Regions from separate parts of the Homo sapiens genome. Here region 1 is linked to region 2. Evidence: fine-mapped expression QTL. A gene starts in region 2. The other region holds a variant in brackets. All regions are shown on one strand. Distances are between the middles of the regions. Region 1 overlaps ZBTB20 (zinc finger and BTB domain containing 20). Region 2 holds the start of ZBTB20-AS1 (ZBTB20 antisense RNA 1).

Region 1 (5,382 bases), 34 kb before region 2:
CACCTGTTCATTTAACAACCTTATTTTTGTTTTTTGTCTGATCTAGATGCAGCCGCTCTCTGCTCCCTGCCCCAATGAACATCTGCACTAGGCCCAAGCCTTGGAGTAATTTACCTGAAGAGTGACACCATTGATTTTGAAACTACTGTGAGTACATTATGTCTCCAATAAAAGGCTTCTTAGTTCACTTTGTTTAATACACACACACACACACAGAAAATTGTGAAAGCAGGCAAAATTTTAGATGGCTTCATTTCTTGGATCAGCAGGGTAACCAGACTCAGTCCTGAGGTGCCCACAGCGGTTCTCAACTTCCCGGCTGCAGTGCACACCATGTGCATTATCATTCCCTCCTGGCCAGATGGCTGTGCTGAGCTGTATCTGAGCACACCTTGCAGGGACTGGTGCTGTTCTGCTTGGTCATCTGTGCCTCTATGTACGGTGGTGGCAGCTTCTCCTAATCTGTTTGCTTCTCATCATCCTTCCGTGCCACTGTTGAATCTCATGGTAGCTTGTCATTTCTTGCCACCCTGGTCAAATCTGTGACCAGCAGCTTTGCTTGGTTTTATTTACCTGTTGTCTGAGCTGCAACCCATGCTGTTGTCTCCTTGCTGCCCTTCCCTTGGAGCTCTGGCCTCCTTCCACCACATCTCTAAGCCACTTGTATCCAGCTCACCTCTGCTCTCTGGATGTATGGGTCTGTGTAGTTGATTTAGTTCCCGCCATGCAAGGCATTTATGTAGGAGAAGTAGAGACCTTGCAAGGAAAAGTACAGAAATAATTTGGGGTAGGGGATATGATACCTATGGGAAAATACTGATGAAAGTTTGATATCAAGTATTCATTAATCATTGCTGAAATAACAGATGAATATATGCTATTTTCCAATAGAAAAGCCAGTCATTTGAATTATTTAGAAGTTCTGCATGCAAAGTAACTTAATTACACATTTTAAAACAATAACTAGTTGTTATATTCACAAGTTTTCCTATATGTTATGAGGCAGGTAATGGGATGGTGTTTTACAGACTTCTATGTTACTGGAAAACGCTAAACCTGGGAGACTAACATCCCTCTTAGGCTTCAGGTAGGATATTTACATTCATATTTCTATGTCTTTAGCTATTCTGGTATAAATCAAACCTAAAGGGATGAAGCCAGAGTTTTGCTTTATTTTGTGTTGCTTTTTTACCTTTAATGCTTCCAGTCAACTGAATCATAGTTGATGGGGGCTGCTGTGTAGGTGATAGACAGGCCTGCCTTTCCCGGAGGGGAATGTGTTCTATAGTACTAATAGGACTGAGTTACTGGGGACTAAAGACATGACAGAAGATCAAACATAGTTTCTTCAGTCCACACCCACACAAGGAACTTACTTGTATATACCTTCATTCATCCTTAAGTTCAAGTGCAAGGAATACCCGAGAAATTCCCACATCTGGATAGTTTTCTGAGTTTTTCTTCATCACAGAGTAACTATGCTGATACAGATAACACAGCCTTACTATGATGCAGATGGGTTTAAAAGTTTCTATATCCTTTAAGAGGGAAAAGAGTTCTTATCACTCTTACCTTCCTGTGCTACAGAGAACCCAGATCCAGACCTAGAAATCAGGAGCTGATGTTGCCTACAGATTACAGAGAAGTCCACAAGTGAGCATGTATTCCTGTCGTAGGAAGTATTTCATCTGTGCAGAATGCCAGTGCCTGCTTTTACTTCTCATGGGCCCTAGAGAATGGACAGACTGGGTTATAATCTTTGCAGTCTTTGCTATTCAGAAACTTGGCTTTCCAATGCATAAAAGAGAAATAATAATAATAAAACAGAAACTTGCTAGGTGCAAAAATCAATAAAGAGGATAAAAAATTAAAATGTGAATCATTTACAGAAGTATATCTCTTCTGGTGGGTTGACAATGCTTCGGGCCTAGTCACAAGGCTTGGAAGTGGGTTGGGGAGGCACATATTAAATTTTAATACCTACCCACCCCCCCCATACCACCTGCACAATAATGCTCAGTGGCCCTGCCTACTTAACCAGATTATTGTGATAAGTCAATGAGATGATATATATATAAAGTCTGTCACGGCAGAGGTGAGTATATTTACTCAGTCATTTAAAATTTGCTGACCATTTACTATGTGCCAGACACTGTTCTAGGAACTAGGAATATGGCAGCAAGCAAAACAAACAAAAATCCCTGCTCGGCTGAGCAGCATTCTCTTTTCTTGCTCTGTGAATGGCAATTCGACATAATAGGTACATGGAAGCTAAGACAGAACCTATTTTATTTTGTTCTGTCTTTCCTTCCAGAAAGTATAATTGAAAGTATAAGAGAGAAGAACACATATGTTGATTAGTCTTGCCACCCCATTCTACCCCCAAAAAAACCC[C/T]AGAACCATTCTTTTGCCCTGATGTGTGACCCAGAAGACTGGCCTTCTGGACTACATTACCCAGGCTCTCTTGTCCTTGGGCTTCCCTTTGAATTTGGCCAAAAGGAGACATCAGCAGGAGATGTGAAAGTGGGGGAAGAGAGAGGTCAGGAAATGTGTTAGTTCAGCCCTCCTTCCCAACTCCAATTCTGACTGGACTCAGAATTCATCACCATTTTACTTGCCCCTTCAGTTTAAATGGTTTAAAGCTTTCCACTACTGCTAGTACCTGGCAGTCTCTACTATTGCTAGTACCTGGTGCTATCTCTCTTGAGGTCCCTTAACCTCATCTGCAGCTCCAAATACAGTTTTTTCATTAAATCCTCTTTAGCTAAAAACTTTGCATGTGCCATCTATTTTTGCCAGGATCCTGACTGATACAGTTAAGAGGAAATTATACTGAAAAAAAAATTATAAATCAGCCCTGCCAAGGTTAAAAAAAATAAGATTGAGAAAATAAAATGTGTTTAATCACTAAAATATCTTAAATTGATGTGAGGACATCAGACCAGGTAGAGAAATGATAAATTGCAAGAAAACACGATAAGCCAGAGTCCCATAGGTTGGTCTCAATGAATAGACCATAGTGTCCAGGCTTGATGGGCTTCTATAGGCTAAGTGCAGCTTGCTCAACCCTCAGCTTCAAGGAGCTCATGGTGTAGTGTAGCCACAGCAATGACAAACATGTGAGCAGAAAGGAGATGTCAGGAAGTATACAGCAAGATCAAATGTTGAGGAAGAGATTGCTGGTCCTAACATTGTTTCTGCCTTTGCTACAATAACAATCCATTTGCCCCTACCCAAAATCTAGATATCTAAACAGATTACTGAAATGAAGGGAAATGTCTTCTTTTTCTTTTGTTTTTTTCTTGCTCCAGGCTGCAGTGCAGTGGCGCCATCTCGGCTCACTGCAACCTCTGCACTCCCGGGTTCAAGCAATTCTCCTGCCTCAGCCTCCTGAGTAGCTGGGACTACAGGCATGCACCACCATGCCCAGCTAATTTTTGAATTTTTGGTAGAGACAGGATTTCACCATGTTGGCCAGGATTGTCTCGATCACTTGACCTCGTGATCCGCCCGCCTCGACTTCCCAAAGTACTGGGATTACAGGCATGAGCTACCACCCCTTGCCCGGAAATGTCTTCTTAAAGCTAACATGATGAATATCACAGAACTAACAATCCCTATGAGAGGAACTACCATTATTGAGCTCTTACCATGTGCCAGCACAAGGCAAATCACTTTACATGGCTTATCTCATTTGTTCCTCACAATAACCCTAAGCGGTAGGTATTATTATTCCCATTTTACAGATGAGGAAAATGAGGCTCAGAGATGCGGAGTAATCTACCCAGGACATACAGCTAATAGGTAGTGGAGCGCAGTTCCGCTACCACCCTTATTGGGGTGGTTTGTTACCACCTACCCTTTCTCTCCTGCCCAGATACTAAGCCTATTTAATGTATTGTTGGGGAAAAGAGTAGGGAAATTGTTACGACTCCAGTAAGATTGGGGGAGGCATCACTGGTCTAAATTATCATGAGCCAATAGGAGGTTCCAACTAATTTTTTCCTATCTGATAAGTAACAGGCACATTACTTACCAGATAGGAAAAGACCAAGCTGATAAGTAAAAGGCACATTAACGTGCAAGAGAGGGTGGGAGCCCAGTGAAGAGAGAAAATTGGGATAGGGTGAAAGAAGAGAGCACTCTCAACACCCTGGAGACTGCTAAGAGCTCACACAGATAAAATATTTATTTTTCCATATGTTGCAGAAAGCATTGCCATCACTGTATGTGTGCAATATGTGCAAAAGAGTGTGAAATATATACATCAAATGCCGCCGATCTGGTTAATTTCCATGCATTTAACATGCTTAATACCTACCATATCATCAATATGTTTTAATGCATATTTCTTTCCACATACAATATGGTCTAGTTAGGAAAGAGCCAACATCCTCCACAGCCTTACTCACTGCTATGTTTCAGCCTAAAACTTCTTGCTGGGGCCAGCACAATGAGAGTTAAAAACCAGAAGGCTCTGCTGGCTAACTCGGCCGCCAGTCTCCTTAAAACACACTCCCAATTCTTGAAGCAGCCTTTTCTCATAACAGAAATGTTTGCAGTGAGGAGATGAAAATGTTTTTGTTCTCCTTGGACAATTGAGAGATGTTCAGTCAGAATGTCAGAACTGACCGTTGAAAGGCGGGTGCCTGCGGCCACGCTTTTTTGCCTTTTTTTTTTTTCTTTTTTTGAATGCAGAGCTCCACCAGTGTGGCGGGAGGAAGTGCACAATGATTGGTCTGTTTCTCTGTGGAAGTGTTCAGGGTACACCCAGTTTTGCTTTGCATATATTTGCGAAACATCTGCCCTTTTCTTATTCTTAAGTCCTTCCCTGTCACCAGCCCCCTTTTCCTTTTTCCCTGGTTTCTTTCTTTGTTGTTGTTGGCTTGTCTAACTTTTTCATTGGAGCTTTCATTTTCCGGTTGAGGGGCGACTTCATCAGAGTGTATAATTTTAACAGAGAGAGAGGAGGAAGGGGTTGGAGAGAGAGAGAGAGAGAAAATGAGAGAGAGAGAGAGAGAATGAGAGAGAGAGAGAGAGAGAGAGAGAGAATGAGAACTGAAAAGAAAGAGACTGAGAGGCCAGAGCCTGGCAAATCAACCTTTGGCATGGTGACCAGGAGGAAGGTTCTGGTCGGGAGTTCGCCTCTCTGAAATCCGCTGGAGTCAGCCAGTGTGCTGCTGCCCTCTAAAGGCTCCAGGGAATAGTGCATCGCCACAGAGGCTTGAAAAGACTTGCCCTCAGATGTGCCATGTTTATAATTCTTTTTATACAGCCTCAAAATGTATTTTCAACTAATTATGACAGGGCTTATTCTTTCCTCCTTAATAAACTATGAACTGCAAAAATGGGGTCAATTCACAGCACCTGTGCATGTCTAGA
Region 2 (5,382 bases):
TCACCTGAGGTCAGGAGTTTGAGACCAGCCTGGCCAACATGGTGAAAACTCATCTACTAAAAATACAAAAATTAGCCAGGTGTGGTGGTGCATGCCTGTAATCCCAGCTACTCGAGAGGCTGAGGCACAAGAATCGCTTAAACCCAGGAGTTGAAGGTTGCAGTGAGCTGAGATTGTGCCACTGCACTCCAGCCTGGGCAACAGAGCAAGACTCTGTCAAAAAAAAAAAAAACAAACAAAACAAAACAAAAAAAAACCTGTTCAGAACACACATAGGATTGTTGTAAGGAATAAATGAGATGTTACATGTAAAAAAGTTGTATACACAGTCAAACACTACATGGATACTAATTATTGTGATAATTGTGATAGGGCTACTTCCCAGAATTATCTGAAAGAAAACTGTCATATATGACATCTCTAGTGTTATTGTTGTAACTAATGTTATGAGCAAATGTATGTTTAAAGAGTGTTTTCACTTGTGTAGAAAAAAATGTTGTAATAAATCCATCCTACACAGAGATGATCACAGACACAACCAGTTTTACTGCTTATTGTTTTACTTAAATGAAAGAGACCTTGGTTATAGTAAAATTGTATATAGAAAATCCTAAACCATAGTGCCAGTTAGTTGTCTTACTTCTTGCACTGTGACATCTAAAAAAATAAGTCCTTTAAGTTACACAACTGAGGCTATGTCAAAGCATCACAGCCTAAAAACATAAAAGCCACACTAAATCACGGATAGGTATAGAAGTAGCTGGAGGTAGTAGTGGACAAAGCCTTTCACACAGCTTTACAACAGAGCCGTGGATCCCTAAGGGCCAGACCTCAGTAAAGGGCAAACTATGCAATATAATGAAGCAGTTAAGAGGGTGAACTCTAGAGCCAGACTGCCTGGGTTTAAATGCCAGTCTACCAGCAATTGCCTGTGTGTACTTGAGCAAGTTTCTTAGTTTCTCTGGCCTCAGTTTCCTCATCTGTAAAATGGGAATAATATCATCTACTTCCCATGGTTGCTGTAAGATTAAATGAAATCATATACAGAAAGCAGTTAGAACTGTAACCCCTAAAAAATGTTATCTTGTGATTACTATCATGGTATGTATGTATGGCGAACTCAGCAAGAACTTGAAATTTGGTCTGCTGCTGATTGAGCTCCTGAACAGCCCTTCCTGGGTTATTTGTGCCTTCTTTTGGGGCCATATTTTGTGTTCACATGGTTACAGGGGATTTACCTTAATTCTTTAATCTGGCAAAGAGAACTTGTCTTATATAAGTAAAAACGATGGAATCTGTAGCCTAATACAATATTTTAGGCACATAACAGACCTGATAGAGTCAGAACGAGAAAGAATGCTCTTATACAAATTAGTGCAAATTGTATTATTGAACATTTATTAAGTTAAGCTCATACCATGTGAGGGTGATTGAGTGAAGCAAGGTAGAAACGCTCATTGAACTCAGAGTTTCCTGAACAAGTCTTCTATCGCAAGGTAGAGCGGAAAGAGTTTGAGGAGGTAGGCCTTCTTCCTATCTGCAGGCTGTTACCTCTCAGGTGGCTTCTCACAAGACAGAGAGATTTGGGTCCAGGCCAACAATCAGTGCTTGGGCCATTTGGTTTTGAAAGCCCACTTATTTCACTTTCCCAAGCTGATTGTTCAGTTGTAAAGGCAAGAATGGGGAATCTGATTGAAGAATTATTTGGAGGGGGATTCTCTAGAGCCATCTGAGAGATGAGCTAGAAAAATAGAAAAGCCCTAAGATCTACTGCTGTAGCCACCTGTTTTCTTTCTCATTCTGAATCCAAATCTTATCAATAGTATCCCTTGCCATAACAGCCTACGTTATAGGGTGGCGCTGGGTCAGGCTATCCGCAGCCTCCACATAGCTGTTGCCTTCCTCCTGGGAGCTGTTTAATACTTCCCTGTGGCAAGTACATAAAGCACCCTATTACCCAAGGAGATCATATATCCCACTTCTGGCTTACTCCTGCTATCCTGGCCTAATTATTAACAATGCTCTCTTTCACTCTTGAAAGTGCCCTGTTTGCATAATAAATATGATCACCAATGTACTGTAGTCTCCTGGGTCAGAACTGCCATCTCTGACCTTTTTAACATTCCTCCTTCATTAAGCCTCAGAAAATTCAGAAAACCTTCCATATCACATGCAACCACCCTAGAAAGTGCTCAAACAGGTTGTCAGAGATGACAAGAAGAATGAGTAGATACAGAAAGCAGCCATGGAGTGCCCCTTTAGCTAGCAGATTGCTTTCTGTAGCCCATCCATCATCCGGAAAGCATGATCATGACTGTTTGGTAGATATCTTAGTCTGGGTTGAATTTTCCAATAATTTTTGCATACATGGTGTGGGTTTTGATAATATGCCATATGACTTAATAGGAAGGGGGTTTATTTGTTAACTATGAATATGGTCACTGTGTATGAATAAAATAAGGGACTTTGATAAGTTGGGGGAAATGTAAACTTTCCCAAAGAATCTGGGCTTAGGCCTGTCTAAAGTGAAGGCAAAGTAAATAAATACATAAATAAAAATAAAGTGGAGGTTTAGTGTTCCATAAGAACAAGTCTTCCATTTGCCTTTCAGTTCTTTGCTGAAGCTGTAGGAATAGCAGGCAAACAAATCATCTGGTTATTAGGCCACTCTACCTCAGCCGAAGCTCTGGGGAGTTAATATGGATACCCAAAATGGCTGCGGCACTAAAGGCCGGAATTGGAGCAAAATTCAAGGTCCTTTTCCCTCAGGTCATCGTACCTACAGCTTGTATGCCGCAGCCTGTCCATCTCCCCACTTGCGTATGTAAGGGCAGTGCTTCTAGGAGCCATGAGCATTACTCACCTGAAACCTAGGTGTTAGGAATGCAACCAGCTAGATCTGACCCATGCCCTGTTTTGTGTCTGCGTTGACATGCTGCAGGTGACATCAGTTGCAAGGGGATGACCGAGCGCATTCACAGCATCAACCTTCACAACTTCAGCAATTCCGTGCTCGAGACCCTCAACGAGCAGCGCAACCGTGGCCACTTCTGTGACGTAACGGTGCGCATCCACGGGAGCATGCTGCGCGCACACCGCTGCGTGCTGGCAGCCGGCAGCCCCTTCTTCCAGGACAAACTGCTGCTTGGCTACAGCGACATCGAGATCCCGTCGGTGGTGTCAGTGCAGTCAGTGCAAAAGCTCATTGACTTCATGTACAGCGGCGTGCTACGGGTCTCGCAGTCGGAAGCTCTGCAGATCCTCACGGCCGCCAGCATCCTGCAGATCAAAACAGTCATCGACGAGTGCACGCGCATCGTGTCACAGAACGTGGGCGATGTGTTCCCGGGGATCCAGGACTCGGGCCAGGACACGCCGCGGGGCACTCCCGAGTCAGGCACGTCAGGCCAGAGCAGCGACACGGAGTCGGGCTACCTGCAGAGCCACCCACAGCACAGCGTGGACAGGATCTACTCGGCACTCTACGCGTGCTCCATGCAGAATGGCAGCGGCGAGCGCTCTTTTTACAGCGGCGCAGTGGTCAGCCACCACGAGACTGCGCTCGGCCTGCCCCGCGACCACCACATGGAAGACCCCAGCTGGATCACACGCATCCATGAGCGCTCGCAGCAGATGGAGCGCTACCTGTCCACCACCCCCGAGACCACGCACTGCCGCAAGCAGCCCCGGCCTGTGCGCATCCAGACCCTAGTGGGCAACATCCACATCAAGCAGGAGATGGAGGACGATTACGACTACTACGGGCAGCAAAGGGTGCAGATCCTGGAACGCAACGAATCCGAGGAGTGCACGGAAGACACAGACCAGGCCGAGGGCACCGAGAGTGAGCCCAAAGGTGAAAGCTTCGACTCGGGCGTCAGCTCCTCCATAGGCACCGAGCCTGACTCGGTGGAGCAGCAGTTTGGGCCTGGGGCGGCGCGGGACAGCCAGGCTGAACCCACCCAACCCGAGCAGGCTGCAGAAGCCCCCGCTGAGGGTGGTCCGCAGACAAACCAGCTAGAAACAGGTGCTTCCTCTCCGGAGAGAAGCAATGAAGTGGAGATGGACAGCACTGTTATCACTGTCAGCAACAGCTCCGACAAGAGCGTCCTACAACAGCCTTCGGTCAACACGTCCATCGGGCAGCCATTGCCAAGTACCCAGCTCTACTTACGCCAGACAGAAACCCTCACCAGCAACCTGAGGATGCCTCTGACCTTGACCAGCAACACGCAGGTCATTGGCACAGCTGGCAACACCTACCTGCCAGCCCTCTTCACTACCCAGCCCGCGGGCAGTGGCCCCAAGCCTTTCCTCTTCAGCCTGCCACAGCCCCTGGCAGGCCAGCAGACCCAGTTTGTGACAGTGTCCCAGCCCGGTCTGTCGACCTTTACTGCACAGCTGCCAGCGCCACAGCCCCTGGCCTCATCCGCAGGCCACAGCACAGCCAGTGGGCAAGGCGAAAAAAAGCCTTATGAGTGCACTCTCTGCAACAAGACTTTCACCGCCAAACAGAACTACGTCAAGCACATGTTCGTACACACAGGTGAGTGTCACCCCACCTGGAGGCCTGGCAGCAGGGGCTGAGGGGGCTGTGGGAAGGCAAGGTAAGAGAGCAGGTAGAAGGGAAGGTTTGGGATCATCTTTCAGATTTTAAACAGACCCCACCACAAGCCTCTTCTAGAAACCCCAACTGTGTTCCTCCCATCATAAGAACAAAGCACCCTGCCACCAAGAGACACCGTCACAGGAACCCTTTATGGAGAAGGGATGTCCTAGGGATGTCCAGACTGCAGAAGAGAAGACTCAGGTCATTATATAAGCCATATTCAAGTATTTGTGTTTCAGAGGCAGCATACTGTAGTCAGGAAGAGCTTGAGCTCTTACACCCAGCCAGATGGCCTGGGTGTAAATTCAGGCTTAGCTACTACTAAACCTTGTCGCCTTGGAAAAATTACTTAACTTGTCTATACTTCAGTTTCCTTGTGTATAAAATGAGAATAATCGTGATACGCCTTCCTTATAGTGCTGTTTTGAGAATAAATTAATACATGTGAAGTCTTTAGAGTACTTCCAAGCATATAATAAGTGCTCTATAAGTGGTAGCTATTATTAAGATGGTTAAGAGGAGGAGACATTCAGTTTGTATAGTTTGGCTCCAAAAGGTGGAACTAGACCAATGATTGGATGCTATCAGGAGATCCTTTCCACAAAATAAAAGAAAAATTTTGTTAACAATCAGATCTGCTCTAATATCAGATAGACTGCCTTTAAATGGAGTGAGTTTCTGTAATTAGACGCATTCAAGGAGAGAATGGATGAACATTTTTAGGGATTTTGTACACAGGATTCAGTCATCAAGATGGGCAAGATCATGTTTCA

Evidence for each region. PIP is the estimated chance that this variant, and not a neighbour inherited with it, causes the effect.
Region 1: its variant is fine-mapped to the expression of ZBTB20-AS1 in whole blood (TOPMed, PIP 0.96).

The regions. Positions count from the first base shown.
Region 1 is chr3:114,383,770-114,389,151 of GRCh38, reverse strand. ZBTB20 (zinc finger and BTB domain containing 20) reads left to right here. Exons shown (of 12, transcript NM_001348800.3): 8 at 47-147. It overlaps ZBTB20-AS1 (ZBTB20 antisense RNA 1), which reads right to left. Exons shown (of 9, transcript NR_038993.1): 8 at 1,573-1,729; 9 at 174-756. Among named protein-coding and RNA genes, the nearest start is that of ZBTB20-AS1, 35 kb to the right of the region's middle. The variant C/T (reference allele first, on the strand shown) is at 2,395.
Region 2 is chr3:114,349,438-114,354,819 of GRCh38, reverse strand. ZBTB20-AS1 (ZBTB20 antisense RNA 1) reads right to left here and starts at 3,009. Exons shown (of 9, transcript NR_038993.1): 1 at 2,864-3,009. ZBTB20 (zinc finger and BTB domain containing 20) reads left to right here. Exons shown (of 12, transcript NM_001348800.3): 11 at 2,942-4,546.